Homo sapiens: one gene and its partners. The protein of the gene in region 4 interacts with the protein of the main gene of each other region in a pairwise test. Each region holds a gene or a part of one and is shown on either strand. Other genes may lie near its edges.

The links.
Region 1: the proteins of CREB3L3 (region 4) and STX5 interact in binary tests that used the Homo sapiens proteins (3 or more experiments, as listed by UniProt).
Region 2: the proteins of CREB3L3 (region 4) and PELI2 interact in a two-hybrid assay, tested with the Homo sapiens proteins (one large-scale study listed by BioGRID and IntAct).
Region 3: the proteins of CREB3L3 (region 4) and KHDRBS1 interact in a two-hybrid assay, tested with the Homo sapiens proteins (one large-scale study listed by BioGRID and IntAct).

What each region holds. Positions count from the first base shown.
Region 1 is NC_000011.10:62,823,020-62,830,740, forward strand, and holds part of STX5 (syntaxin-5), read right to left. Parts: intron 4,613-7,721; coding exon 4,542-4,612; intron 4,380-4,541; coding exon 4,324-4,379; intron 4,207-4,323; coding exon 4,136-4,206; intron 2,521-4,135; coding exon 2,404-2,520; intron 2,321-2,403; coding exon 2,264-2,320; intron 2,099-2,263; coding exon 2,017-2,098; intron 1,547-2,016; coding exon 1,440-1,546; intron 1,269-1,439; coding exon 1,147-1,268; intron 1-1,146. UniProt on the Homo sapiens protein: Mediates endoplasmic reticulum to Golgi transport.
Region 2 is NC_000014.9:56,123,365-56,131,085, forward strand, and holds part of PELI2 (E3 ubiquitin-protein ligase pellino homolog 2), read left to right. Parts: intron 1-7,721. UniProt on the Homo sapiens protein: E3 ubiquitin ligase catalyzing the covalent attachment of ubiquitin moieties onto substrate proteins. Involved in the TLR and IL-1 signaling pathways via interaction with the complex containing IRAK kinases and TRAF6.
Region 3 is NC_000001.11:32,032,262-32,039,982, reverse strand, and holds part of KHDRBS1 (KH domain-containing, RNA-binding, signal transduction-associated protein 1), read right to left. Parts: intron 6,796-7,721; coding exon 6,649-6,795; intron 3,074-6,648; coding exon 2,940-3,073; intron 2,149-2,939; coding exon 1,947-2,148; exon of another isoform or gene 1,864-1,946; intron 1,432-1,863; coding exon 1,364-1,431; intron 469-1,363; coding exon 410-468; intron 1-409. UniProt on the Homo sapiens protein: Recruited and tyrosine phosphorylated by several receptor systems, for example the T-cell, leptin and insulin receptors. Once phosphorylated, functions as an adapter protein in signal transduction cascades by binding to SH2 and SH3 domain-containing proteins.
Region 4 is NC_000019.10:4,163,565-4,171,285, reverse strand, and holds part of CREB3L3 (cyclic AMP-responsive element-binding protein 3-like protein 3), read right to left. Parts: intron 6,784-7,721; coding exon 6,646-6,783; intron 2,936-6,645; coding exon 2,829-2,935; intron 1,147-2,828; coding exon 1,078-1,146; intron 196-1,077; coding exon 111-195; intron 1-110. UniProt on the Homo sapiens protein: Transcription factor that may act during endoplasmic reticulum stress by activating unfolded protein response target genes. Activated in response to cAMP stimulation. In vitro, binds to the cAMP response element (CRE) and box-B element.

The DNA of each region.
Region 1 (7,721 bases), on a different chromosome or scaffold from region 4:
TCCCATCACAAGGCTTTGCTCTAGCTGTCTCCTCGGCCTAGAACACTCTCTGTTCTTTGCCTGGTTGGATCCCTCTTGTCATTCAAGTCTCTGCTTAAATGTCATGTCTTCAGAGCAGCATTCCCTACCACACAATCTGATATACCTACTTAGTCACTTTCTTTTTTTTTTTTGAGATGGGGTCTTGCTCTGTCACTCAGACTGGAGCGCAGTGGTTCCATCATGGCTCACTGCAGCCTCAACCTCCCATGCTTAAGTCATCCTCCCGCCTCAGCCTCCCGAGTAGCTGGAACCACAGGCACACGCAACCATGTCCAGCTAATTTTTTTATTTTTGTAGAGATGGGGTTTCACCATGTTGCCCAGGCTGGTCTTGAACTCCTGAGTTCAACTGACTGTGTGGGCCTCCCAAAGTGCTGGAATTACAGGTGTAAGCCACCGTACCCATCCATTACTTTCTTAACACATCATCCTATTTTAACTCTGTATACAGCCTTTATTACTCCCTGAAATTTTGTTGGTCAATTTTTTATTTTTATTTTTTTGACACAGAATCTGGCTCTGTCACCCAGGCTGGAGTGCAGTGGCACGATCTTGGCTCACTGCAACCTCTGCCTCCCAGGCTCAAGCCATCCTCCCACCTCAGCCTCTCGAGTAGCTGGGACTACAGGCCCATGCCACCATGCCCAGCTAGTTTTTGTATTTTTTTGTAGAGACAGGGTCTTGCTTTGTTGCCCAAACTGGTCTTGAATTCCTGAACTCAAGCGATCTGCATTGCTCGGCCTCCCAAAGTGCTGCCTATGGGATTACAGGTGTGAGTCACTGTGCCAGCCTTGTCAGTTCTTTTCCACAGCTGTCCTCATCTGCCCTATCAAATTCCATACACTTACACATGCTACAAAGCAGCTCCAGACAGACTTTACTGTTCTACTTGCCACTGTATCTCCCGCACCTGGAACAGTGCCTCACATGAACAGGTGCTCAATAAAAACTTGTTGGGTGGATGGAAGCAGGTGAACTGGGTCCCATGGGTGGGCAGAATTCACTCTATCTTCCAAAAGGCATCAAGCAGTCCCTGGGGACTTTAAGATGCCAATCCACGGGGAAGAGAAAGCTCCTCTGTTTGGGGCGAGAGAGTGTATCTCACCTCTGAATGGTTTCCTCCTGTTCCTTAACCATGTGTGCCAACTGCTGAAAGATGGAGCCCAACTCAACAATTGTCGACTCAATGTTCTGCATGGTGTCTGCCCGACTCTGGATGTAGGAATCCTTCAGGAGAGGGAGAGAGCACATGAGCACCAACAGCTTCTTCAGGGTCAGACCTGCATTTTTACAACCCTCCCAGCTTGCCATTCTGCCCATGGCACACTCCAAACACTCTCTCGGGAACCACAGAGGATAATGGAGAAGCTGATTCTACCTAGTTCAGAGCCTGGGTACCTGCTCGTCAATGAGCTGCAGCTGCTGGCTGGTCCGAGAGTCCATCATGTCGATGGCGACATCCTTGGAGGCATGGGACTCTGCCCCCAGAACCACAGCACCACCGCCTGGGGGAGAAAACAGGATGTGGCACACCTTAACAGTTAAAAGCAGGTTCAAAGCCCACATGCTCTGGGTTTGAATCCCAGCTCTAGCACTTACTAGCCTTGTGACCCTGGACAGGTCATTTAACCTCTCTGAGCCTCAGTTTCCTCACCTGTAAAATGGGGGATAATAATAGTTGCTTTCTCAAAGGGTGGTTGTGAAAATTAAATGAGAGAATGTGAATAAAGTGTACGAAAAAAAATTAGAAATTATCATTATTCTGAATATAACTGAATTCACCCCAACAGTGAGAATGTGGGAGTCTAAATGTGGATCACGAATCTCAACCATCTGGTTTGGCCTCTGAGAGATAAAGCCTAGAAAATTCCTTGACCTTCCACTCTCCTACCCAACCCGTGCCTTTAGAGGATGCCATCACAACCAGAGTAAGTAACCTTACCTCCCAGGGCTCCCCGTTTTACCTGTGACTTACCCAGGTGGTTAGGGGCAAGGGGCAGGGCTGACACAGGTGCCCGGGAGAACTGCTCTCTCCGGCTCCTCTGCTGCTTCAGGTTCTGGGGTTGGGGAAAAACGCAAAGGACCTGAAGCCACTAGAAAGCAGGCATGTTAAAGAGACTCCCACCATTGGCCCCATGACCCTGTAGAACTTGTCCCTTCTTCATTTCCCTCTTGGATCTTTACTCCCATATTCCTACCCCTCCTACGCAGATTGTTCTCACCTCTGTCCTCACTTCTAAAACCGATTTGAAGTCATTGGACATAGAAGCCAGTTTCGACTAGAAGAAAAGGAGAGAGGGTCAACCAAAGAAGGCTCCACATTCTTCCTCTTTGCCTCCCTCCCTTCCTCCCCAGGTCCCACCTGCAAGGAGACCACAATGGTGTTGGAGTGGGTCTGCAGGTGCCGGCCACTCTGGCTGCCCTTGGCTCTCACGAAATCCTGGAGCTGAGCAATTTGTTTGTTGAGGCTATTGATGTCCTGGTAAAAGAGTCCAAGGAAAAACAAAGTATTAGCCAAGGAGTCCTTAGTCAGCATCTCTCACGATGGCCATCTCTGGTAGGAAGGACAAGGTGGAAGTTACTAGCCAGAGTGAGAGTATCTCAGACAGTCAGACCAGATGGGCCTGCTAGGATTTTCCAAGGTCTAGTGTTTGCTCTGGCTCAGTCCCTGCAGAGAAGAGCTACAAAGAGGCAAAATAGGCCTTCATCCATTGTAAATAACTTGTTTACTCCTCCAGCCTACTGCCCTGCTCCATTCTGTGAGGCCATGCTCTTGGCCACAGAACCCTTTCAAAGGCCAAAATCTCGGGTCTAGGGCATGACCAACAAAGCCCCCGGACAGTACTCAGGAAAAGGGAAGAGTCAAAGGCACTGTAGTTTCGAGAGGCATCAACAGAACTATTTTCATACACACAATTCCTCAATGGCTAATGTCTGTAAACCCACCACTTTGAGAGGCCAAGGCAGGCAGATCATGAGGTCAAGAGATTGAGACCATCCTGGCCAACATGGTGAAATGCCATCTCTACTAAAAATACCAAAAATTAGCTGGGTGTGGTGGCGCGCGCCTATAATCCCAGCTACTTGGGATGCTGAGGCAAAAGAATCGTTTTGAACCTGGGAGGTGGAGGTTGCAGTGAGCCTAGATCGCGCCACTGCACTCCAGCCTGGCGACAGAGTGAGACTCCGTCTTAAAAAAAAAAAAAGTTATTATTGGCCTGGCGCGGTGGCTCACGCCTGTAATCCCATCACTTTGGGAGGCTGAGGTGGGCGGATCACCTGAGGTCAGGAGTTTGAGACCAGCCTGACCAACGTGGAGAAACCCTGTCTCTACTAAAAATACAAAATTAGCCGGGCGCGGTGGCACGTGCCTGTAATCCCAGCTATTCGGGAGGCTGAGGCAGGGGAGTCACTTGAACCCAGGAGACAGAGGTTGCAGTGAGCTGAGATCGCGCCACTGTGCTCCAGCCTGAGCAACAAGAGTGAAACTCTGTCTCAAAAAATAATAATAAATAAATAAATAAATAAAATAAAAGTTATTATTACAGTCGAGTGCAGTGGCTCACACCTGTAATCCCAGCACTTTGGGAGGCCAAGGTGGGCGGCTCACTTGAGGTCAGGAGTTCGAGACCAGCCTGGCATACCCCGTCTCTACTAAAGATAAAACAATTAGCCAGTCATTGGTAGCGGGTGCCTATAGTCCCAGCTACTGGGGAGGCTGAGGCAGGAGAATCGCTTGCACCTGGGAGGTGGAGGTTGCAGTGAGCCAAGATCGCACCACTGCACTCCGGCCTGGGTGAAAGAGCAAAACTCTGCCTCAAAAAAAAAAAAAAAAAAAAAATTATCCAGGAATGAGGGCATGTCCCTGTAGTCTCTACCACTCAGGAGGCTCAGGCTGGAGGAAAGCTTGAGGCCAGGAGTTAAGGGCTGCAGTGAGCTAGGTCACACCACTACACTCCAGACTGGTCAACACAGTGAGACCCCCCTCTCTAAAAAAAGAAACTTGCTCTGGGTCCCCATGGCAATGGAAAATGACAGGAAGACAGAAGTGATCTGATTGGAATGCTGGGCTCTCCTGATGGCTAGTAGCTCACCTGTTTGATGATATATGTTAGCTCTTCAATTTCCACTGCTTTATCATCAAAGAGGGACTTGCGCTTTGCCACTACAGAGACAAACAAGAAGCCACAATGGGTGAGGTCAAGGACAAAGCTCAGGGAATATAGTCCTCAACCCTCTTTGATTTACTGCCCCACTTCTGAAAGACCCCAAGAACACTCACAGATTGTCAGCTTCTCCAGCTTGGCAAATGTGTTGCTAAGGTCTTTCCCAATGCGCCTGCAAATGACCACTAGTCAGACTGTGGGAAAGGGCAGGACGCCTTTTCCCACATAAGCTCCAGCATAACCAATCCCAGACTTCACAGCCAAGGCCACTGATTGCAAGTCTACTTTTCTTCAGACACTGTATCACCCCACCAGAAAGCTTCTCTCAACTCACTTGGCCATGAGGGTGAATTCACTGCGTTGTCGGACAGCACGCAAAGCTGGCTTATTTGTCTGGATTCCATTCTGAAAAGCAATGGCAGGAGGTGACAACTTTAGTTCTCCCTTCCCCAGTTCCAGCTTTCACTCTTCCTGAGGTGTCCACTAACCTATCTCTAGTGCTGGTGGCATCCATCAGATGATCTAGATTTATGAGTGGTAGTCGTTTAGAGTCCAGATTTGAAGAGCAGGTAGACCTGAGTTCAAATCTTGACTCACCACTTACTACTAGCTGGTGGATTTGGGGCGAGTTACTTAAAACATTCTAAATCTCTACTTTCTCTTCTATAAAATGAAGACAATCCACACATCTCCTATTGTTGCTAAGGTTAAATAACAAAAAGGCTGAAAAGTACTTCAGTCAACTACCTGGTACATAGTAAGCACTAAATAAATGGTATCTAGTATTGCCATTCTATTCCTCAAATCAGGAAATCAATAAGGATGATTGCAAAGCTCTTGGAGATCATACAGAAGAGCAGCTTTACCATGAGCTGAAAAACACTTCTTTATAACTTTTCTGTTTTTGAGACAGGGTCTCACTCTGTCTCCCAGGTTGGAATATAGTAGCATGATCATAACTTACTGCGGCCTCGACATCCTGGGCTCAAGTGATCCTCCAACTTCAGCCTCCCAAGTAGCTGGGACTACAGGGCACACCACCACACCTAGCTAATTTTTAACTTTTTGTAGAGATAGGGTCTTGCTATATTGCCCAGGCTGGTCTTGAACTCCTAGGCTCACGCAATCCTCCCACCTCAGCCTCCCAAAGTGCTGGGATTACAGGTGCCAGCCAGCATGTCCAGCCATCAGTAAAAATATTTAAAAATACAGTTACTCGGCCGGGTGCAGTGGCTCACGCCTGTAATCCCAGCACTTTGGAAAGCTGAGGCAGGCGGATCACGAGGTCAAGAGATTGAGACCAACCTGGCTAACATGGTGAAACCCCATCTCTACTAAAAATACAAAAATTTAGCCAGGTGTGGTGGCATGCACCTGTAGTCCCAGCTACTCAGCAGGCTGAGGCCGGAGAATCACTTGAACCTGGGAGGTGGAGGCTGCCGTGAGCCAAGATCCCACCACTGCACTCCAGCCTGGGTGACAGAGCGAGACTCCGTCTCAAAATAAATAAATAAATAAATAAACAAACAAACAAACAAATAAATAAATACAGTTACTTGGCCAGGTGCAGTGGCTCACACCTGTAATCCCAGCATTTTGGGAGGCCGAGGCAAGCAGATCACGAGGTCAAGAGACAGAGACCATCCTGGCGAACACAGTGAAACCCCGTCTCTACTAAAAATACAAAAATTAGCTGGGTGTCCTGGCACCGCCTGTATTCCCAGCTACTTGGGAGGCTGAGGCAGGAGAATCACTTAAACCCAGAGGTGGAGGCTGCAGTGAACCCAGATCACGTCACTGCACTCCAGCCTGGCAACAAAGAGAGACTGTCTCAAAAACAAACAAACAAACAAACAAACAAACAAACACAAACTGCTTACTCGGGTCCCACTGGGATTGTTGAAAAAAACACTCCCGGCTGGGTACGGTGGCTCACGCTTGCAATCCCAGCACTTTGGAAGGCTGAGGCGGGCAGAGCACCTGAGGTCGGGAGTTTGAGACCAGCCTGACCAATATGGAGAAACCCCGTCTCCACTCAAAATACAAAATTAGCCAGGCATGGTGGCGCATGTCTGTAATCCCAGCTACTTGGGAGGCTGAGGCAGGAGAATCACTGGAACCCGGGAGGCGGAGGTTGCAGTGAGCTAAGATCGTGCCACTGCACTACAGCCTGGGCAACAAGAGCGAAATTCCCATCTCAAAAATAAATAAATAAATAAATAAATAAATAGCACTCCCAAATTTTTTTTAAGAGGAGCTGAGTGCAGTGGCTGACACCTGTAATCCCAGCACTTTGAGAAGATAAAGCAGACGGATCACTTGAGCCCAGAAGTTCGAGACCAGCCTGGGCAACATGGTAAAACCCCATCTCTACTAACAAAACAGAAATTAGCCAGATGTGGTGGCACATGCCTATAATCCCAGCTACTGAGGAGCCTGAGGCAGGAGGGTTGCTTGAGCCCAGGAGGTCAGATGTTGCAGTGAGATGAGATAGAACCATTGTACTCCAGCCTTGGTGACAGAGTGAGACCATGTTTCCAAAAAAGGAGAGAGAGAGGCCAGGTGTGGTGACTCATACCTGTAATCCCAGCACTTTGGGAGGCTGAGGAGGGCAGATCACCTCAGGTCAGGAGTTCAAAGCCAGCCTGACATGGTGAAACCCCATCTCTACTAAAAAAAAATACAAAAATTAGCCGGGCGTGGTGACGGGCACCTGTAATCCCAGCTACTCGAGAGGCTAAGGCAGGAGAATCGCTTGAACCCAGGAAGAGGAGGTTGCAGTGAGCCGAGATTGCACCATTGCACCCCAGTCTGGGCGACAAGGCAAAATTCCTTCTCAAAAAAAAAAAAAAAAAAAAAAGAGAGAGAGGAAGAGACTGGGCCTCGCTCAGCCTTCTAAGTAGCTGGGACTACAGGCACATGCCACCACGTCCAGCTTTTTTTTTTTTTTTTCCTGTAGAAACAGGGTCTTGCTTTGTTGCTCCTGCTGGTCTCTAACTCCTGGCCTCAAGTCATCCTCTGGCCTAGGCCTCCCAAAGTGCTGGAATTACAGGTATGAGCCACCACATCCAACCCTAAGTGATTTTGATACAAATTACTGATCTAGGGCCAGGTGTGGTGTCCAGACCAACCTGGGCAACATAGTGAGACACTGCCTGTACGAAAAAATTTTAAAATTAGCTGAGTGGTGCATCCATGTAGTCCCAGCTGCTCAGGAGGCTGAGGAAAGAGGATCCCTTGAGTCTAGGAGTTCAAGACTGCAAGTGAGCTATCATCACACCACTACACTCCAGCCTGTTGACAGAGTTGAAAAACAGATCTCAAAACAAAACAAAAACAACAAATTACTTATCTAGAAAATGTCCTTAATCTTACAGAGATAAAAACTAATATGTAACTAGATTAACTAATTTTCTCATGGTTACAGAGCAAACTTATGGTAGAAGTATATTGGAAAATTCAAGGTGCATGTTTCTCAGCTAAAGGCTCTTCCTAGAACTTGTTCCTTATTCAC
Region 2 (7,721 bases), on a different chromosome or scaffold from region 4:
TTATAGACTAAAAGGTCTTTGAACTTTAAAAAAATTTATAAAACAAAATCTTTACTGTAGCTCAGCATGTGGGGTGATCTGAAGAGCTCAGATCTGTTTGTGTGGATGGAGTGTCTAATTCTGTGGGCTATTAAGGGTTACGGTGTTACTGGCTTTGAGTTGCTATATTTTCCTTTACTAACTTTAGCCTTGTTTGGAATATGTGGCTGTCTGTGTTGCTGTGTGGTTTCTGGTCTGGCTTTCTCAGATTTATTTATTTCTCTCTTTAACACACCAAGACTGAAAGCTTCATTAGGTCTTTTCATTTCTGGTTGTGTTTCATCCTGTGATCAATATTTGGGGATGCTGTGTATAAATGAAAGTAAAACAGGCTTGATTCAGGTTCAGTAATTTTACCAAACATTTTATCGAAAAGATAAAATACTTATGCACAAAGGACCAAAACAAAACAAAATAGCCGTTGCTATATTTGAGGAAGACCAATATTGTCACATTGGAGCACTGGTTTTATATCTGCTGTGCAGGGCTTGCAGTGTGGCCTTCCTGAAAGTAGGTATATGGGGTTGTAGGTTGGCTTTTGAATGGAGACAACAGCAACTTGGTAGACCTCATTGGTATGGGAGAAAAATAACTGTGAAAAGGAATTTATAATGTCTTTTGATTTAATTAAACGTTTCTCCTGGGGTGTGCAGAAATCTATTTTATAAAAAGAAAAGTAAAGGTTAGAATAATTCAGTTATTAGTTCTTACTGAGCTTATTGTCACCTTCATCTTCTGGAAAATAAAATAATAAGAGCAGAAAGTGCTTCATATTTCTTAGCTTTGTCTAAATCACCTGTTCTCAACCACTGTCTCAAGTACCTCATATGTGATGATCAGTCTTGAGGGTATGTGGCCAGTAATTTATGACAAGTAATAAAGTGTGGATCTTTCAAATGATTCAGATATGTCATGTTAATAATGTCATTTTTCACCCTTTTGCATTCTGATGTGTTTTCTCAAGTGGGAGAGAAAGGGGTGGAGTTACATCAGGCAAGCCAGGAATGTATGCATTCAGCAAATATTTATTGGCTGTCTACTCTTCCAGGCATGAGGAATACAGCTAGGACAAGGCAGACACATTCCTTTTCCTGGTGAACTGCTCTCTTATTTTTGTCCCAGCCTCTTTGTGAATAACCGTTACTGATACATGGTTCATTTATTTATTCCCCAAATATTTGAGCATCTGCCACTTGTCAGATGCTGTGGATTGCACTAAGGGATACGCAGATGAACAAGACAGTCATGGTCCCTGCTGCTGCAGCACTGACAGCCTAGCTGGAAGACCTGAAGGCTGGGATGGTGGATGTGTTAGCAGGGTCCCCTAGCCATGTGCCAGGATGAGATGGGGATGACCACGATGGAGATAAGAGGGAAGGAGTGCTTTCCGAAGAAGGTTTGGAGTATTCTGCAACCTAGAGATGAAAACGTGCAGCTACTTTGAGGAACAGAGAAACACTCTTTATGGCTAGGAAAGAATGATTGAATGAAACATTGTGAGGGATGATGATGGGGGGATATCATGAAGGGCTTATAAGATATTGGAAGGGGTTTGGACTTTACCCTAAGAGCACAGGAGACTGTCTCAGGGTTTTGCTAGTATGAGATGGGAGTGAAGAAAGCCCTCTGCTCTTTGCAGAGTGGAGTTGGAAGGCACAGTGGAGTTGGAAGGAGAAACTGAGGCTGCAGCCCAACAAGGCAGAGAGAGAATGGAGTGTGAGCTAGAGGGCAGCTGTCTTGCTTCTAGTTCCTGGTTCGGGTACCTCCTGAGACCTAGTTTCGTGTGATTGACCATTCATTCAGTGACTCAAGATACTGACTGAGGACCAGCACTGCTCCCAGCCCTGGGCTACACCAGCAAACAAGACAGACAGCTGCCCTTCCTGCCTGCTTGGAGCTTACCTTTTTTTGAGAGAGGTGAGCAAGCAAAGGAGTAGATAAAAAATGGAACTTCAGAGACTGCTGGGAGGAAACTAAAGCAGGATAAGGAGGAAGAGAGTTATTGGGTGGGCAGGGGGGGGGTGAATTGGCAGGGTGAAATGCTAGGGATAAGGTAGTGGGGGATCCTTTTGGACAAAATAATCAGGAAAAGCTTTTCCGAGAAAATAGTCCTGTGTCCTTTGAGAGTCCCCACTTCTTTCGGTTTTTACTTACTTTTTTTTCTGTTTAAGCCACCTTGAGTGGGTTCTGCTCTTTCAATCAGAAGATTCCAAGTATCCCGTTAAGAGGCAACGTATATAAGCAATTTACTGAAGGGAAAAATAGAAGTGTAAACAAATACAAGGGCAGATAGTTAAGTATCCCTGGACAAAAACGTGGTTCTGCCCTCTGTGCTGCTTGCCATGTGCCCAGAGTGGCCATTGAATTCCACCAGAGCGTATTGCCCCTTGAGGGTAGGAACCTTGACTTCCCCCCTCCTTGGAATGCTGGGCTTCCCTTTCTGGTGCATGTTAGGTACTCACTGAGCCTCTTGGAGAAATGGATTTCTGTGGCACACCCTAGTTTGCCACCCCACATGGAGATGTGGCCAGGGCTTAGTGAATGTTTCTGGACTTGGAAGGAGCACTCTGCTTCTGTAGCACAACTGCAGTTTTGTAAACAATCCTACCAACCTTTAGGGCCCAAGTCAAAGTTTCCCTGAGAAACTAAACATGTGCTTTACTGACATCAGATATTCCAGTTTCAACTTTTGTTTGTTTTTCTTTTTGTCAGTCACCTAGCAGTCATGTTGTCACCTGCAGAAAGTCCTGCCTTGAAGGGAAGCAGGCCATCTGTTCTGATTCCACCAGCTGCTCGGAGCTGCATTGCAGTGCGCCACAGTGGCGTTGAAAGGCTGTGGTCATTAATGCCTATTAATGATGGCTGGAAATACTGTGGCATACAAGCCTCTTGGATGACAGACCTAATAAATATGCATCAGGGGGCATTTTCAGCAGCAGGTTTAAGGCTATTGCGAGTCATTCTCGATTGAGGTTTTCTTTCTAGCCATCCGCATAATGCTTCTCACTCTCAAACACTTCACTCTGCTTATCCCTGCTTTTCTGCTCATGCAGAATCTGTTTTTAGGATAAGAAATCATTGTTTCAAGCTTTGTACTTCCATTCTTATTAGTACTGGTTTAACAGAATTTAACCAGAGCGAGCAGTTGTGTGTTTGGCTTCTAGGCTATTGGTATAAAACGGCTGATCGTGATTACCAAGTGCCTCGGAGGACCTCGGTGGCCCCCCTCCTTTCCCATCTTGTGCTTCCTGCTCCATGATTATAGAACACTAATTATAATCAGAACTGGTGATGGGTGAGCAATTAGGCTTTTCTGGACTGATGATTGATTGATGGATTGATTGATTGATTGCGTTGGGGAAAGGCCCTTCCTGCGGAAGGATTGTAGACACAAAGGAGTGTGCTTTCACACCAGATCCCAGAAAATTATGCTGACTAGATCCTTGATGTAGTACATAAGATTACATTATGGTTTGGGTACTTTCATCACATGCTGTGGATAGAATTCAAAATGCAACCTGACAAGACTGATAGGAAATAAATTCATTAAGTTTTTATTGAGTTGTTTTTTGTCTCCTCGGGTTGTTGATCATTCTAGTGAGCACAATTTCAGCCTTTTTGATGAGTTATTCCAAACATTAAGTACTGTACGGTTTGAAAATCTTAGCTAACAAAAGCATTTTTGGAGTGGCTTTATAATTTATAAGTCATCTGCAAGTCTTTTTGCATTTGTTAATCTCCAATATTATCTGAAATTTGTTGAGAGCGTGGCAGTTGAAGAATAGCCTAGCTTACTGAGAACCATGCTTCTGGCAGACTGGAACATAAGCAGCTTTCACCCAGGAGAGCTAATGCATGACACAGATTTTCAAGCTTTTAAAGGTCACCTGACATGAAATAACAGAACTAACAGAGATTCGAGTAGGTGGGGTAATCTATACAAGCATCCTGCAGGTACAGGATGGTGGAAGGACCAGAAGAATGTTTTAACACTGCATTTGGGTGGTTAAAGGACAGGATGAAGAGCTCATTTATATTGGTTGTACCTGTCTGTGACTGTCGGCAGTAAGAAGGTAGTACAGTTCCTGAAATACTTTATGTCTCCTCCACACCATGGAGAACAGTTCTGTGTTGGTGAGAAGCAAGCCAAGGCAGAAGATGGCTCTTGTGTGGTGCAGTTTACAAAAGAGAGACAAAATTTGATAGCAGCCACTGCTGCCAGCCACCTGCACAGCACTCAGGGTTGGGAGAGCTACAGGCCTAGAATCCACTGGTTACTGCCTCCAGATTGAACACTTTGCCATAGAAAGAAAATGAAAACATTCCTCTAGTAGCTAAAGTGAACGTAACTTCTGAAATTTCCCCAGATTCTGTTTGGGGAATTTTAGCATTTTTCATTTCTAATGAGAGGGACTAAAAGATGTGAAATCAAAACTTTTGCATTCAAAATTGATCAACTGAGTGTAAAAGAAATTTAAATAATTGAACTTCCAGATGATGTTAAGTCTGTTGCTTTTATAATTTTGTTGTTTTTAAAGCTTAAAATTACACTAAGAATTTTGAGATGCATGTGTGTATGTATATATTTTATTGCATGTGTGTTCTGCATGGGTATATTAAAAATGGGATTCATTGATCCTGCACATGGACCCCTGAACTTTAAGATGAAGAAAAAAAAATGGGATTGCCTGTACATACTAGGAATTAAGCACTATCTAAACATACACACTAAACACTGATCATTCAGTTTGTGTTAGGTGATGCTGTTGTTGCTGTTTTACGAGGCTGATTTCACTTCAGAGGACTAGGGGTGGTGGAGCCTACATAAGGAAATGCCCCCCAGGGGTACACAGTCTAAGGGCAAGACAGATGACTTAGCAACAAATCATTAATTAGGGTGTAGCGGGATGGTGGGCGAGAGCTCTGGGCATACTATATGCCAGGTTCCGTTAGGTGGTTTACATTATCCTTTCCAGGAGTTCAAATTTATTATCTGGGCAATGAGGCTCCAGCTTAATGACTTGTCCAAGCTCACTCCCCTAGTTAGTGGGAATCTGATTAGAAGGTAGGTCCTTGTGGCTCTCTTGCTTGATTATTTCCACCAGGGTGAAGGTGAGAGGCATGTGTATTGCTGGGAGATTGGGAAAGATTTCCTGGGGCAGTTGGCCTTTAGCAGAGCCTTGAGAGGTGACCTGGGTTTTTTATAGAGCAGTGGTAGTAAAAGCATGGCGATTTTGGAACCTTGAGGGGTATGGCTGGAGGCTGAAGTACTTGGGGAGGGAGGTGAAGTTGGAAAGTCAGGTTGGGGTATTGTTGGGGTATTGAAATATTTGGGCTAGGGTTATAGTAGGTAATCTCAGAGTGGTCCCTGCCTTCATGGAGCTTACAGTCCATCAAGAAGGAAGCCCTTTAAGCAAACCTGGCAAGGTGCTGCCAAGGAGAAGTACAGGGTTTCGTGTACAGTAGGGGACAAAATTTGTTTTTGGGGGAGGGCAGGTTTTTGTGGGGAGGGAGGGAATTCTATGTCAGCAGAGGTAGAAAGGGTGAGTTAGCTAAGGGTTAGCAAGGGGAAAGCAGAGTACCTGAAGGCACATCGAGAGGTTGAGGGGCTGAGAGGCTGAGGGATATCCAGTGCCTTTGGAATTGAAGGGGTGAGAGGGCCTTTGTGATGAGAGAGACTTGAAAGGAAGGACCTGGGCCCAGTAAAGGCTGTGGCCTCTGGGAGGGGGAAGCCCTGCTAATAACATTTCAAGGCATTATTGCAGACTCTAGGTAGCAGGCAGTGTCAGCCTTCTGAGTAGGTTAGTGAACTAATCCTTAGGACCCAGTCTTGCTTGAAATCTCCAAATAGGCTTGTTTTCCCTTTTGTAATTCATTTCCCTCCTACCTTTGTCTCTCTTCCCCTGCCAAAGAACAGTTGCTCACAATGGGCGTAGCCCCCTTCTGTGCGATGGCAAGGGTGAGGTGAGATAACGTGATCCATTTAATTATTTGGGCACTCAGTGGTTTGATTTTGAAACTTGTGCTGGAACCAGTGAATGTTTTGGGGTTAAACTCCACTGGCAGAGCAGTTAGTGATCCAAGAACTCTTTCCTGTTACCCATTCAGACAACTGTGCCTCTGGAGCCTTGCTTTCCCTGGAGGCCCAAGGGATGGGGTCCTGAGTGCTTTGTCCCCCAAGAAACGAGGAGAAGGACCCATAGCCCTGTGCTCTTTCCTGCATGGGAGGATGCACAGTGTGCCCACCAGCTAGGGGATCGCCCTCAGGAGGCAGAATGGGCTGCTTTTCCTCCAGGCTGTTGTTTCAAGCAGGGATGGACTTGTCCCTCTGCCTTGGGGTCTTGGCTGTCTCTTGCTGAGCTATGGCAGCAATAGTGTGGAGCAGGTGAGGACTGGCATTTAGCCCCCAGACCAGCCCCTCTGAGGGTGTAATTGATCCCATTGCTGGAGAAAAGAGCAGAGCAGATTTCTGGCCTTGCAGTGTTTGCTGCAGGTGGTGGTCTTGGATCACTGAGGGGCTGCCCTGCTTGGCCTGGTCGTGTTCCCATCTCAACTTCTGCCATTTCTTCAGGGTGCTCCTTTTGAATTGAAGTGGAGGTCCCTGGCCAGAACCTGCAGTTAAAAATGATCCTTAAAGAGGAAGCATCGAGATCTGAGTTTTTTTTTTTCTTTTCCTGAGGAGATGAGGAAATTCTGGCTAGACTCTTGCTGCTTAGTGGGTTGGTTCTTCCTGCTCCTTGGGGGAGGTCCCCAGAGGGCTGGCTCCTGAGCCCTGATGGTATCTGTCCTTTATTGAGTGCTGATTCTTAGCTGGGTTCTTTGTAAAGTGCTATTCGTGTGTGGCCTCTTTAAATGTTTAGCAAGGGAGGTAGGTACCATCACTCATCATTTTATGCATGAAACTGAGTCGTGATGCTTGAGAAGCTTGTTCAGGGCCACATGTGACAGAGTGCTGATTCGAACCTAGGTCTTTCTGACTCCAAGTTGTTCAATCCTGCCTTTACTGTGTGTGTTCCAAAGCAGTTTTGTATGTTTTTATTTTGTTTTTTTTTAACCAAACCCTTGCCATACTGGGTATTCTCATTAAACATAGTGGTGTAAAACTTCACTCATTCAAAGAAGTTACCAGTAAGGTGAAATGTTTTTTCCTTGGGTTTACAACTTATATTAACTTTTTTGGGAAGTTGCCCACATATGCGCTTTGCCCACATAAGTATTGTGCTCCTAGTATGTTTTCAGAAAATTAAATGTCTGTTTTTGAGGAAATAAAAATGAATCCTTATATCTTCCCTATTTACCTGAATATATTATATATAATTATATATCATATTGAATTGATGCATCAATATGATTTGGATGTTGGATAAAGGCAGGAAAAGCTGCCTTTGTCATCCAAAGTAATAAGTTCATTTCTCTAGTTTTCAAGATGATCCATTTTGTTCCTCCTTCCAGAAAAGCTGTCTAACCTTATTAGCTGTGGCATGTACCCTTGAAATCTTTCTTCTTGCTTTTGTTGCTGTCGTTGGTAATTTAGGCTAGCATTTGTATTTCGTTTATAGTTTGGAAAAGGGGCTTCAAGTACTTTTCCTCTCTAATAAAGGTCTATCTTTGCCTGGGACTAACGTCGCTGTTATGTTGATTTTTCCTTTCTTGTCTTTTAATCTTCCTGTTAGTATTGATTA
Region 3 (7,721 bases), on a different chromosome or scaffold from region 4:
TGTACGATTAAGTTCTTGTTATCTACCAAAGTGGCCTAGATATCGGCAGCAAAGGCCCAGAAATACAACCCAGGTCTAGCTATTTCCCTGCCTAAAGTAGAAAAAAAATAACATTAGCTTATAAGTCTGCTGCTCCAACCAGGGCCAAGCTGGTCTTGAGCCCTTGTTTAAGACAAACACTACCCTTCCAAGAGTAACGATACCCCACCTCACTTTAGCAGTCCCTCTTTCTACCATGTACCGCAAAATTTAAGCAAGAGCAGAACTCTTACTGTCACATCTAGCAAAATCTTGGCCTTCTAAAGGTTTATCCGTAGGTGTGTTTGTCTGACTCTCAATACTTTAGTCACCAGCATTCTCCCAGGCACTTACTTGTACATTCTGCCCCACCACAGAGATAAAGACATACCATAAGCTTCATAAGAATCTTGAACCTCCCCATGTCCATAGTCATAATATTCTGAGTCCCTGAAAGCCAAAGGCAGAGTGTTAGGAAGCTACAGAGTAACTATGTTTCAACTTTCTCTCAAATACTTCCATAAGTCAGTCATTTTACTAAGTGTATTAATACAGGAAAATACTCATTCTGCCCCATCCCTAAACCGTAAAGTATTTCCAAAATATGTATAGACTATGTACTTATAAAATAATTGACAACTATTGCAAAGAAAAATGGATACCACAGAATATAAAGTGAAAAAGCACAATCCTAAATTGACCCTTTTAATATAGCATATATATACATGTATTCATAGGGCTCACCAGAAGGAAAAAAGAACTGTTTTATCACTGCTGTAGAATTCTGGAACTCTTTTTCAATCAATTCACAGGTAAGCTATATATATGGACACACAAGGAAATGGTCTTAAAGAGAAATGCAGAAAAGAACCTAAGTTATGGTAATGGAATTCAAGTTTCTTGTAAAATTTTATGGAGCTTTAATGTGGTTTTGATATTTTAAAATAATAAATCAAAATAACATAAAGGCATTTCTCCTTGTTTCCATGTAGTCACAGCTTGGAAATTTTTCATTTGTTACTCTCAGGTTCTAAATTATAATTTAAGGTTCACAGTTATCCAGATTTACAAATCCAAGTGTGTGCTTCACAGATGTCAAACGCAGAGGAAAGCATTGCATGGTGGCACGCACCTGTAACCCCAGCTACTAGAGAGAGCTAAAGTGGGAGGACTGCTTGAGCTCAAGAGTTCAAGACCAGTCAGGACTGTGGGGGTTGCAGAGGAGATACCCTCAAAAGGCGAACCATTCTGCTCCTTAGGGTTGTACTGTCTAAATCTCTCTGTTCCTCCAACTCCCTCCATCCATCCTCAGGACAAAAAACAGTGCTTATACTGCCTGACTCACCCTTGACTCTGGCTGTAATAGCCTTCGTAGCCTTCGTAACTTTGTTCTGCGTATGTATCATCATATCCCTAGAACAACAACAACAAAAAAATGAAATAAAAGATCAAAATCATAGAGAGTAGGAAAGGTAATTACATCCCATGGGAGTAAGTAGGCTTCTGAATTAAAAGGACATGACATTTCCCTCCAAAATGTTAATGCCTACTGTAGAATAGTCAAAAGAGAAAGGGTTACTAAACAAAGAAAACCCAAACAAATATGATATGCCACAGAAGAAGTGTGGGCAGGAAGTAAAGTACAAAATCGAGCTTTAGTATTATCAGTACTAGTAGTAAGAAATTCATTATAAAATACTACATTAAAGTACATTTTATTTCTTGTTTAATCTACAGGCGTATAGTAAAACCCTGCCTAAAATGGAAAAATCTTCTAATAGTTCAACATTCACTGCAAGAGAAGAGGGCAGATTGCAAATCTTACAGGCAGTCCATGACACCTACATAAAGGACCGAGGCCCTGTCATTCAACTTCCTTTAGCAGCCTTCTAGGTACTGGGAAATGGCACATTGTTCAAATTTCTTACATATTCTTCATATGTTTCTGGTGCAGGAGGTGGAGGCAAAGGTATCCTCTGGATGCCCGCTGTCCGTGCTCTTGGTGCTGGAGCACCCCTCACAGTAGGTGGGGGTGGCACGCCTCGAGTCACAGTGGCACCTCTGGTGATGGCTCCCCTTACTGGTGTACCACGTACCAAAGCCCCCCGAGGTGGTCCAACACCACGGCCCCTACAAAATGAAAGTTTATCTTAAATGGAGCTTTTTATAAACAGGCCACTTTTATGTTCTGATTTGTTTACAAATTCTGGAATTAGGCAGATTTTATGAAGCCTTAACTAGGCTATTATTAAAGCACAGAGGAATGTACAGGGTAAAGGACCCACACTGCAAGATCCCCCAGGTCCTATAGAGGACCAATTCATCACTGCACTGCCTTGGGTAGGTCTGGAGAGTCTGAATACTCTATAAAGGTCAGTCACAAAAGGTAGAATTTTAAAGTCAGACCATTAACAAATGCTAAGACTGTCCAAAATTAGAAGACCAAAAGTTTCAGCTAGACTGCAGCACTTGGCTATGGTCAAAGTGCCCAAGATCTAGAACTCTATTTTTTTTTTTTTTTGAAATGGAGTCTTGCTCTATCTCCCAGGCTGAAGTGCAGTGGCATGATCTCGGCTCACTGCAACTTCCGTCTCCTGGGTTCAAGCAATTCTCTTGCCCCAGCCTCCTGAGTAGTGTGGTGTATGCCACCACACCTGGATAATTTTTGTATTTTTAGTAGAGACAGGGTTTCACCATGTTGGCCAGGCTGGTCTCAAACTCCAAATGTCAGTTGATCCGCCTGCCTTAGCCTCCTAAAGTGCTGGGATTACAGGTGTGAGAGTATGGTTGTAGAATTCTGTTCTTTATGCAACATACAAATCCTGAGACCCTTCCTAAGCTAGACATAAGAGCACCACTAAAAGAGATGACACTAGTAGTCAAATTCACATCCTATTTCTGGGTGTCTCCATTATTTTTACCTGGGAACAGGTGGTGGAGGAGGTGCAGCTCCCCGGCCTCTCACTGGCACCCCACGTCCACGAGAGGGTTCAGGTACTCCATTCAAGTAGGACAGCTCTAGAAATTGCTCCTGACAGATATCATCCATCATATCCTGGGAACGAAAGATACAAGGAGTATTGTGTGGTATCTACACTTTCTACTGAGAAATCATCTGGTCCACGGGAGACTTGAATTCTAAGAAGAGCTCTTGAGAGCCCAGATGAGGTCTCAGGTCATTCCTTCTCTGAAGTCAAATGGCACCCTATCTGTCACCTCTTTGAGAAAAGTCTTGATGGTAGACCCCTCATTATTCATAATGTGGTCTCTGCCTAGCTCTCCGGATCACTTCCATTCTCTCTCTATATATAACCTACTCACAAGCCAGACTGAACAACTTGTAGTTCAGAGCCTGGCATACTCTTACATATCCATTCTTTGCAAATAGTTTCCTTTTCCTGGAATAATAAAAGCCACTACCATTAATGGAGCTGTATGCACTTGGCTCTATATAATAAGCTTTATATAGATTTTTCAGTTTAATCTTCAAAATGAGGGCCGGGTGCAGTGGCTCACGCCTGTAATCCCAGCACTTTGGGAGGCCGAGGCGGGCAGATCACGAGGTCAGGAGATCGAGACCACCCTGGCTAACACGGTGAAACGCTATCTCTACTAAAAATACAAAAAAATTAGCCGGGCGCGGCAGGCACCTGTAGTCCCAGCTACTCGGAAGGCTGAGGCAGGAGAATGGCGAGAACCCGGGAGGCGGAGCTTGCAGTGAGCCAAGATAGCGCCACTGCAGTCCGGCCTGGGCGAAAGAGAGAGACTCCATCTCAAAAAAAAAAAAAAAAAAAAAAAAAATCTTCAAAATGACCCTGAAATAAGTAGGCAGATCTCCACATTTTACAGTTAAGAAAACAGACTCAAGGAGTATACATCAACCAGCTTAAGAACACAGAGCTAATAAATGGCAGACTCTAGATGTGAATTCAGAATTACCTGTCTCAAAATCTAGGTGTTGGATCAACAGGCTTTTTTGTCCTTATACTGTCTTTTTTGTCCACCTGAGGGATTCTTAATTCATCCTTACAAGACTTGCCTAAATAAGTGTCTCTTGAAAAACTTTCTCTTGATGCCACCCCTACAACTCCTCTTTTCTCAAAGTACCACATAATTCCCTATACCCAAGCACTTACCACATAATTTTAGAATTGTCTGTCACTAAACTGTAAGCTCTTTAGGAGCCATTTTTGTAACTTTACACCCAAGCATAGTATCAGACATCTGACAGATACTTAAGAAATGTTTGGGACGAACAAGAAACCTGAAGCTCAGAAAAGTGAAATGATAACCTGTTCAGGAAGACACAGATAGACAGACATACATAGTCCAGTGCTCTTCCTACGGCACTGTGAAGCATTGCTGGTATAGTTAATTGTTCTAAGTGGAAAATGGAGGGCTCTGGTCACAGATGCAAAAATAGCCTCACTTTTCTTTCCTCCACAAGAGGGAAAAATCAAATGCCACTGGCAAATCTTTTCACACTTCCTATTGAGAGCCATTCAGTCTTAATACTTCATGCATTTTTATATATCCCAGGCGTATACAGCTTCAATAGATGATGCTAGTCTTTGATGCCCCCCTCAACTCTCTAGCTCCTCCTACCTTACACATTACCGCTGCTTGAGACTCACACCTTGGAGAATCAAGTAACCAATGCCAGACCATTGCTCAGACTCCTCCAACTGCCACATCAACACTGAGGAAACCCACATCTCCCCGGCAAGCATCTTTTTCAAAAGATTCACTTACAAGCAAGCCTCATAAACCTAACCCTTCTGAGGAATATGAGGGAGACTAACAATGAAGAGAGGAGATGGGCATTCCCTCTGCAGTCCTTTGGAAATTGAATGGCTTGGGTGATCAATAGAACACCCCAAAAAGAGTAAAAAGAATTTCCTTAAGATTATTAACCAGCTGTGTTTTTCTCTAGGATATGTTAAATGGTCTGTTTCATGTTGAACATTCTTTTTTTTTTTTTTTTGAGACAGAGCCTCACTCTGTCACCCAGGCCAGAGTGCAGTGGCGCAATCTCGGCTCACTGCAAGCTCCGCCTCCCGGGTTCATACCATTCTCCTGCCCCAGCCTCCCGATTAGCTGGGACTACAGGCGCCTGCCACCACGCCCAGCTAATTTTTTTTTTGAATTTTTAGTAGAGACGGGGTTTCACCATGTTAGCCAGGATGGCCTTGATCTCCTGACCTCGTGATCCACCCGCCTCGGCCTTCCAAAATGCTGGGATTACAGGTGTGAGCCACCGCGCCCTGCCTCATGTTGAACATTCTAATGAAGATGAGGTACTTGAAAGCAAAGCAGCTGCTAAGACATTTGAGACTGTTGGAATCCTTGGAGTTCAGCATTATGGGTACACAATGCCTAAAAACTTATTTATTTATTTTTTTTGGAGATGGAGTTTCACTCTTGTTGCCCAGGCTGGAGTCCAATGGTGCAATCTCAGCTTACCGCAACCTCTGCCTCCTGGGTTCAAGTGATTCTCCCGCCTCAGCCTCCCTAGTAGCTGGGATTACAGGCATGTGCCACCACGCCCGGCTAATTTTGTATTTTTAATAGACAGGGTTTCTCCATGTTGGTCAGGCTGGTCTCGAACTCCCGACCTCAGGTGATCTGCCCTCCTCGGCCTCCCAAATTGCTGGGATTACAGGCGTGAGCCACCGTGCCTGGCCCACACTGCCTATAAATTTTTGCCCTATCAATTTTCACATCATCTGACACCACATTTAGTTCTAATTCCCTCATTTAACATTCAAGAAAACCAAGGACTGTATCTTACCTCCTCCTAGTTTTCTGATGAACACATGACGCTTACTCAATTCTACTTAATAATATTCCAAATCCTTCATAAGTCTCCAGATTCATCCTTGTTATTAAATATTCAACAGTAGTATGTTAACTCTGACAACCACCAGGCCTTGCTAAAAGGCAAAAATAGTACCATTTCCTATTTATTCAAAGTAATATTCCAACCAAGTATTCAAAGGTGGTAACAAGCAAGATAGATAAACTGGCCTGTCCCATCTCTATCTAGTCCTCAGTAATAGTCTGAAAAAAGCTGCTCACCTATCTGTTAAACATCAATAGTCAACCTCTTCCAAACTAAACTCGTCCTCAGCAAACTCCTCCAGGAAAGAAATCCCTGAGTGTGCTCAGGTCAGAATTTAACCCAATAACACTAGATGCTATAAGCTTCTTGCTGCTAGTCTCTACTCTCTACAGCATGAACTTCTTGAGTGCAGAGACCCACCTTAGTCACTTTCCTAACACAATCTCCTTGTTCCACACTACTACCAAAATACTCAGCTAGGTGAAGACCCTGTTAAACCTTAGTTAACCAAATATCAGAATGCAGGCACACTGTGGACCCGAGATACTGACAAGATACCGGTACACAATGAAAACCACATTAGACAAGGAGGGATAGAGTGGCCTTGGAGCATAATGCTTTGAGAACTAGGTGCAAGTAACGAACTACCTAAGGAAAATGAACATAAGTGCAGAATTTGGTATACATACAGGTTATGCAGAGACCTTAGTTAAGAACCCCTACCTTCACAACAGTATAAGATCCCAGTTCTCTTTTGCTCAGAAGACACAGGATATGGATTTCCTTACCGGTACTAGAAATTTCTTGACTTCCTCCATGGCATGGGCCATAAGAGCATAAGCCTCACATGGGGGTCCAAAGACTTCAATGAAGACATGCAGATCCATATTCAAGTGGGCATATTTGGGGTCTCCACCTTTGCGCAGCTCTTCCTCCTATGGAAAAATGCAGAGAAATGTCACACCATGGACTAGGGAGAAAACACCACCTTTACCTCTAAGCCAAAGGAACAGCAAGAAATACCCCTAATGTCCATGAAAAACAGTAAAGTTAATTGGTATGAGCTGAGAAGAATTAAACAAAAAAAGAAAAAAGAAAAAAGAAAAACAGTAAAGTTTAAGAAAGTAAAACAAGCAGCCAGGCGCGGTGGCTCACGCCTATAATCCCAGGACTTTGGGAGACTGACGCGGGAGGATCACAAGGTCAGGAGTTCGAGACCAGTCTGACCAATGTGATGAAGCCCCGTCTCTACTAAAAATACAAAAATTAGCCGGGCATGGTGGCGCACGCCTGTAATCCCAGCTACTCAGGAGGCTGAGGCAGGAGAATTGCTTGAACCCGTGAGGTGGAGGTTGCAGTGAGCCACTGCACTCCAGCCTGGGCAATAGAGCAAGGCTCCCTCTCAAGAAAAAAAAAAAAAGTAAAACAAACTCTCAAGAACAGTAATTTGCACAGCCTGCTAAACTTGCACATGGTCTGCTGCTTACAGTTAATTGTTGTCTTAAATCCCTGAGATATCCATTGGAGCTCCTACTAAAAGCATAAAGAAGAAAAACTTAATTCTAGTCTATTCAGATAATAGCTGTTTGCCAAGCATTTGTTTTTAAATCACAGGTAGAGCTGTTAATCACCACGAGCTCTGCTTATCTGCTTATATGGTCTAGGGAGTGGTAGGGGAAGAAAGAAGTCAGGACAGAGGGAAGAAAAGCTCATGTAAATCTCATTAGTTAGAACACACTTCAGCCGTAACTATATGCATCTAGCAAGAAATGACCTGAGAAAACAAACATGTGTCCATTAGACTACATAAAAGGAGGGTTGAAAGAATTGGTTTTTGGACTGTAGCAGGAATATCTCATCA
Region 4 (7,721 bases):
GATCATACTTGAGCTGGGGCACAAGGAGAGCTTGGACTCATTGTCACCTCCCTATGGGCCCCTCTACAGAAGCCTAGGTCCCCGGCTTGCCTGGGGGCACCAGGACTCACTGCGACACAGGTGCCTGTCTGGGCTGACTTGCTGGTGGACTGCACCACAATGGCCTGGAGTTTCTTCAGTTGCTCCAAGAGGGACCTTAGAGAGACAGGCAGGCCTCCGCTGAGCCCTAAAGGGCCTCGGTTCTGCTTCTCGTCCATTTCCGGGGTCCCCCAGCCCCGCTAAAGTCCAAATTCCATCCATTCTTCAAGGGCCTCTGGCTCTTTATTATTTATTTTATTTATTTATTTATTTGTTTATTTATTTATTTATTTATTTTGAGACAGAGTCTTGCTCCATCGCCCAGGCTGGAGTGAGTGGTGGGATGGCAGCTCACTGCAAGCTCCGCCTCCCAGGTTCACACCATTCTCCTGCCTCAGCCTCCCGAGTAGCTGGGACTACAGGCGCCCACCACCACACCCAGCTAATTTTTTTTGTATTTTTAGTAGAGACGGGGTTTCACCGTGTTAGCCAGGATGGTCTTGATCTCCCGACCTTGTGATCCGCCCACCTCAGCCTCCCAAAGTGCTGGGATTACAGGCGTGAGCCACCACACCAGGCCTTATTTATTTATTTTTGAGACAGAGCCTTGCTCTGTCACCCAGGCTGGAGTGCAGTGGTGCGATCTCGGCTCACGGCAACCTCCGCCTCCCGAGTTCAAGCAATTCTCCTGCCTCAGCCTCTCGAGTAGCTGGGACTGCAGGTGCCCGCCACCACGCCTGGCTAATTTTTTTGTATTTTTAGTAGAGACGGGGTTTCACCATGTTGGCCAGGCTGGTTTTGAACTCCTGACCTCAGGTGATCCACCCGCCTCGGCCTCCCAAAGTGCTGAGATTACAGGCGTGAGCCACTGCACGCGGCCCATAGGTAAAACTCTTATTCCCTATGTCATTCTGCCATCACATGGGCTCTCTGCTCTTCCTGCAAAGGGACTCTGGGGCTGCTTCCCCTGTCCTCTGCCCCAGCTGGACCCAGACTCACAGGTTTTGCTTCTCGAGATGCAAGACTTTCCTCTGTAACTCCTGATTCTGAGCAGTGCAAGCTGACATCCTGAAAGGAGGAAGACGCATCGACATTCAGCATATGCCAGTCACCAGCTGGCCCCACTGACATCTCCCCCAGAGGCCTCACGTTACAAGCCAAGAGAACCCAAGGCCAGAGAGGGGAAGTCATTCATCCAAGGTTACTCGGCAGGTCAGACAGGGCTGGGATTTGAACCCACATCTGCCTGGTTCCTAGGTCCCATTTCTGCATTAATATGGAGGGGGCTTCATTCAAAGCTGAGCCCCCTGGATGGGTGTGGTGGTTCACACCTGTAATCCCAGCACTTTGGGAGGCCGTGGTGGGCGGATCACCTGAGGTCAGGAGTTCAAGACCAGCCTGGCCAACATGGTGAAACCCTGCCTGTACTAAAAATGCAAAATTAGCCAGGTGTGGTGGTGGGCGCCTATAATTCCAGCTACTTGGGAACTTGGGAGGCTAAGGCAGGAGAATCGATTGAACCCGGGAAGTGGAGGTTGCAGTGAGTCAAGATCGCACCATTGCACTCCAGCCTGGGCAACAAGAATGAAACTCTGTGTCAAAAAAAAAAAAAAAAAAAAAAAAGCTGAGCCTCCTAGATTCAGGCAGTGATGTTTCCAGAAGATGAAATATCAGGACAACCAGGCATCCTGGGAGACTCAAGTTTCTTTTTTTGTTTGTTTGTTTTTTGAGATGGAGTCTCGCTCTGTCGCCCAGGCTGGAATGCAGTGGCACAATCTCGACTCACTGCAAGCTCTGCCTTCTGGGTTCACGCCATTCTCCTGCCTCAGCCTCCCGAGTAGCTGGGACTACAGGCACCCGCCACCAAGCCCAGTTAATTTTTTTGGATTTTTTGTAAAGACAGAGTTTCACCGTGGTCTCGATCTCCTGAACTCGTGATCCGCCTGCCTCAGCCTCCCAAAGTGCTGGGATTACAAGTGTGAGCCACGGCGCCCGGCCGAGATTCAAGTTTCATCTCTCCCTCTCCCCATGACCTTGGGCCACTCCACTCTCTGATCTCAGCTTTTGTGTCTGTAAAATGGGATACAATTACCCAGGACATAGGGTGGTGGGGGGAATGACCCTGGATAAAGATGATCAGGAGCTTAGCAGATTGCATTTAAGAAAGGGGAGAGACCAGGCGCAGTGGCTCACGCCTGTAATCCCAGCACTTTGGGAGGCTGAGGCGGCCAGATCACCTGAGGTCAGGAGTTTGAGACTAGCCTGGGCAACACAGTGAAACCCCATCTCTACCAAAAATACAAAGAAATTAGCTGGGCGTGGTGGCCATGCACCTGTAATCCCAGCTTCTGGAGAGGCTGAGGCAGGAGAATCGCTTGAACCCGGGAGGTGGAGGTTGCAGTGAGCCAAGATCGCACCACTGCACTCCAGCCTGGGTGATAGAAGGAGACCCTTCCACACACACAAAAAGGAAGTGTCTATCTTCAGGCAGAGGGTCAGAATAGGATGGGTCACACTTTGTCCTTTTTCCGCACACCTTCTAGGGGGCAAAGGGTCCCCCAAACCCTTGTCCTACACCATCACTAGGCATCTTTCCATCCCTGCAATCAGTAAGAAGCATGATCTCTCCCAGAGAGGAGAATCACCTCCAATTTTGTCAGACTCTAAGCTGTGTGGCCTTAGCCACATCTCCTTCTCTCTGGGCCTCAGTTTCCTCCACGAGTGTAGAGTCTGGGTCCAGCACTACCCACCGAGTCTCCAGGCCATCGATATATTCCTTCTTCTTCTTCCTGCTTTCTTGCGCCGACTGCTTGTTCCGGATTTTCCGGCGGATTTTTTTCAGCACTCGCTCCTCGTACTGCCAAGTGAAATGGGGAGGAGGGTTTCAGGCCAGAAAGTCCCCACTTGGAGTCCGGGGGCAGTAGCTCTCGCCTGTAATCCCAGCACTTTGGGAGGCCGAGGCAGGCGTATCACCTGAGGTCAGGAGTTCGAGACCAGCCTGGCCAACATGGTGAAACACCGTCTCTACTAAAAATACAAAAATTAGCCAGGCATGGTGGCGGGTGCCTGTAATCCCAGCTACTCGGGAGGCTGAGGCAGGAGAATGGCATGAACCCGGGAGGCGGAGGTTGCAGTGAGCCAAGATCGTGCCATTGCAATCCAGCCTGGGCAACAAGAGCGAAACTCCATCTCAATAAATAAATAGATAAATAAATAAATAAATAAATAAATAAAATAATTAAAATTAAAAAATTAAAGTCTTCACTTTGGGGATGGTGCGACAGTCCCCACTGTCCTGACCCCACTTCACCTAACCTCGACCCCACAACTTCACCCCATCCTCTTTGCATACAAGACATCCCGGAGCCAAGGACCCAGAGGCAGATTCCTAATGACTTGAAGCTACCCTTTGCCCAAACCCTCACAGAGTCTCTGGGAGGTGCCTGGGTTCTGAGGGTCTTTTCCCAGCTCCCAATACTGTAAAATGGGCAACTGCCCACCAGACTTTGGGCATGGGTACCACTCCACCACCTTGTGGCCATCCCTGGAAACATCACCTTTCCCTGGCGACAGCAAGTGTTTTAAGACTAATTAATAATTTTTTTCTTCTTTCTTACGTTTCTTTCTTTTCTTTCCTTTCTTTTCCCCTCCCTCCCTCCCTCCCTCCCTTCCTTCCTTTCTCCCTTTCTCTCTTTCTCTCTTTCTCTTTCTCTTTCTCTCTTTCTTTCCTTTTCTTCCTTTCTTTCCTTCTTTTCTTCCTTTCTTTCTTTCCTTTCTTTCTTTCTTTTCTTTCTTTTCCTTTCTTTCTTTCTTTCTTTTCTTTCCTTCCTTTTCTCTCTCTCTCTCTCTCTCTCTTTCTTTCTTTCTTTCTTGTTTCGCTCTTGTCACCCAGGCTGGAGTGCAGTGGCAAGATCTCAGCTCACTGCAACCTCCACCCCCAGGGTTCAAGTGATTCTCCCACCCCAGCTTCCCAAGTAGCTGGGATTACAGGTGCACAACACCATGCCTGGCTAATTTTTGTATTTTTAGTAGAGACAGGGTTTCACCATGTTGGCCAGGCTGGTCTCAAACTCCTGACCTCAGGTGATCCGCCCATCTTTGCCTCCCAAAGAGCTGGGATTACAGGCATGAGACACCACACCCGGCCAATAAGTGTCTTCAAATGGGAATGTCAGGCTGGGCGCGGTGGTTCACAGTGCTGTAATCCCAGCACTTTGGGAGGCCAAGGCAAGAGGATCGCATAAGTCCAGGAGTTCAAGACTAGACTGGGCAACATTTAGTAAAGACCCTGTCTCTACTAAAACAAAACAACAACCACAAAATCAGCTGGGTGTGGTGGTGCATGCCTATAGTCCCAGCTACTTGGGAGGCTGAGGCAGGAGGATCCCTTGAGACCAGGAGTTCAAGGTTGCAGTTAGCTGCTACCTGCAGATTGTACCACTGCACTCCAGCCTGAGCGACAAAGTGAGATCCTATCTCAAAACAAACAACAACAACAATAGAAACAGATGGGGCCAGGCACGGTGGCTCACACCTGTAATCTTAACACTTTGGGAGGCCAAGGTCAGAGGACTGCTTGAGGCCAGGAGTTTGAGACCAGCCTGGGCAACATAGCAAGACCCTGTCTCTAAGGAAAAAAAAAAATGCTGGGCGCAGTGGCTCACACCTGTAATCCCAACACTTTGGGAGGCTGAGCTGGGCAGATCACAAGGTCAAGAGATCGAGACCATCCTGGCCAACATGGTGAAACTCTGTCTCTACTCAAAAAAAAAAAAAAAAAAAAAAATTAGCCAGGCGTGGTGGCGCGTGCCTGTAATCCCAGCTACTTAGGAGGCTGAGGCAGGAGAATCACTTGAACCTGGGAAGCGGAGGTTGCAGTGAGCCGAGATCGCGCCACTGCACTCCAGCCTGGGCAACAAAAGCGAAACTCCGTCTCAGGAAAAAAAAAAAAATTAGCTAGGCATAATGGCATACACCTGTAGTCCCAGCTGCTAGGGAGGCTGATGTGGGAGAATCACTTGTACTCCAGAGGGGGAAGTTGGAGTGAGCCAAGATCACCTCACTCCACTCCAGCCTGGGCAACAGAGTCAGAACCTGTCTCAATAGAAAAAAAAAAAAAACAGATGAGAATATCAAACTCAGGCATTGATACTGAGTGCAGCAGGCTGGGTGGGGACTGTGGTTAGCTAGAGAACCCAAACAGCTACCCAGCCATTGACTGGTGCATATGGAGGTTTGAGAATATGAAACAGAGGACATTCAAGTAATTGAGTTGGTTTTTTGGATTTTGTTTTGTTTATGTTTTTAGTTTTTTTGTTTTTGTTTTTGTTTTGACAGAGTTTCGCTCTTGTCACCCAGGCTGGAGTGCAGTGGTACCATCTCGGCTCACTGCAACCTCCACCTCCCGGGTTCAAGGGAGATCCTCCTGCCTCAGCCTCCTGAGAAGCTGGGAGGCTGAGAAGCACCTTACAGTTGCCCACCACCAGGCACAGCTAATTTTTGTAATTTTAGTAGAGACGGGGTTTCACCATGTTGGCCAGGCTAGTCTCGAACTCCTGACCTCAAGTGATCCTCTGCCTCAGCCTCCCACAGTGCTGGGATTACAGGTGTGAGCCACCGTGCCCAGCCTCAAGTCACTGAGTTCTCTTGTAAAATCTACCGGTCAGAAAAACATTATCAAGCAATTCAAAAATGTATAAAATGCAGTACAGTCCAATCAAAACATGTCTGCAGGGCCAGGCATGATGGCTCATGCCTGTAATCCCAACACTTTGGGAGGCCAAGGTGGGAGAATCACTTGAACCCAGGAGTCCCAGCCCAGCCTGGGCAACATAACAAGACCCCATTTCTACAAAAAAAAAAAAAAAATTAAATTAGCCAAGTGTAGTGGCGTGCACCTGTCATCCTAGCTACTTGAGAGGCTGAGGCGGGAGGATCTCTTGAGCCCAGGAGGTCAAGGCTGAAGTGAGCTATGATGGCACCACTGCACTCCAGCGGGACACAGCAAGACCCTATCTCCAAAAAAAAAAAAAAGTTTGCTGCACCCAAATTGCTGCCACCTGGAGTCCGCCATTCATTCCTGGATGTTGATAATTACCCTCTGAGTTGAATTTACAATGGGGCTTCTGACTGATTGTTTTGGCTCTGGTGACAGACACAGCATAGCATTCTAGTACGGGTGTTCTAAAGGTGAGACACATAGCCAGTGCGGTGGCTCACGCCTGGAATCCCAGCACTTTGGGAGACCGAGGCAGGAGGATCACATGAGGTCAGGAGCTCGAGACCAGCCTGGCCAACATGGTGAAACCCTGTCTCTACTAAAGATACAAAAATTAGCTGGGCGTGGTGGCGCATGGCTGTAATCCCAGCTACTCAGGAGGCTGAGGCGGGAGAATCGCTGGAATCTGAGAGGCAGAGGTTGCAGCAAGCTGAGATCGTGCCACTGCATCCCAGCCTCAGTGACAGAGAAAGACTCTACTCTAAATAAATAAATAAAGGTGGGACACACATGCAGGTAAGTGCACGAAGGGGAGATGGATCCAGGGCTGGAAGTCCCCCCAGACTCACCTTAGTGAGGGGCAGCTGAGTGGGCAGGGTGATGCCTTCTTTAGCCAGCAGCTTCTTCTCATCCTCGGTGAGCACCAGCTCCTGACAGTGCCCAGCCCCAGGTCGCAGGAGGTAGGAGGCCCCCAGGTGATGCTGTTGCTACGGAAAAAATCAGAGGAATGACGGCGGGTGCAGGGACGCCAACTGCCTTCAGGAAATGAAAGAGGTATCAGATCGAAAACACTATCACCCCAGGCTGGGTGTGGTGGCTCACGCCTGTCATCCCAGCACTTAGAGAGGCTGAGGCATGTGGATCACTTGAGCTCAGGAGATCGAGACCAGCCTGGGTAACATGATGAAACCTCGTCTCTACTAAAAATACAAAAATTGCCCAGGTGCGGTGGCTCATGCCTGTAATCCCAGCACTTTGGGAGGCCGAGGTGGGCAAATCACTAGGTCAGGAGTTTGAGACCATCCTGGTCAACATGGTGAAACCCCGTCTCTACTAAAAATACAAAAAGTTAGCTGGGCGTAGTGGCGGGTGCCTGTAATACCAGCTACTTGCGAGGCTGAGGCAGGAGAATCGCTTGAACCCAGAAGTCAGAGGTTGCAGTGAGCCGAGATTGTGCCACTGCACTCCAGCCCTAGTGACAGTATGAGACTCCGTCTCAAAAAAAAAAAAAAAAAAAAATTACCCGACCATGGTGGCGGCGCCTGTAATCCCAGCTACTCAGGAGGCTGAGGCAGGAGAACTGCTTGAACCCGGGAAGCAGAGGTTCCAGTGAGCCCAGATCACACCACTGCACTCCAGCCTGAGAGACAGAGTAAGACTCTGTCTCAAAAAAAAAAAAAAAGAAAAGGTGGCTCACGTCTGTAGTCCCAGCACTTTGGGAGGCCGAGGCAGGTGGATCACTTGAGGTCAGGAGTTCGAGACTAGCCTGGCCAACATGGTGAAACCCTGTCTCCATTAAAAATACAAAAATCAGCCTGGTGTGGTGGCACGTGCCTGCAATCCCAGCTACTCGGGAGGCTGAGGCAGAAGAACCGCTTGAACCCGGGAGGCAGGGGTTGCAGTGATCTGAGATCCAGCCTGGGCG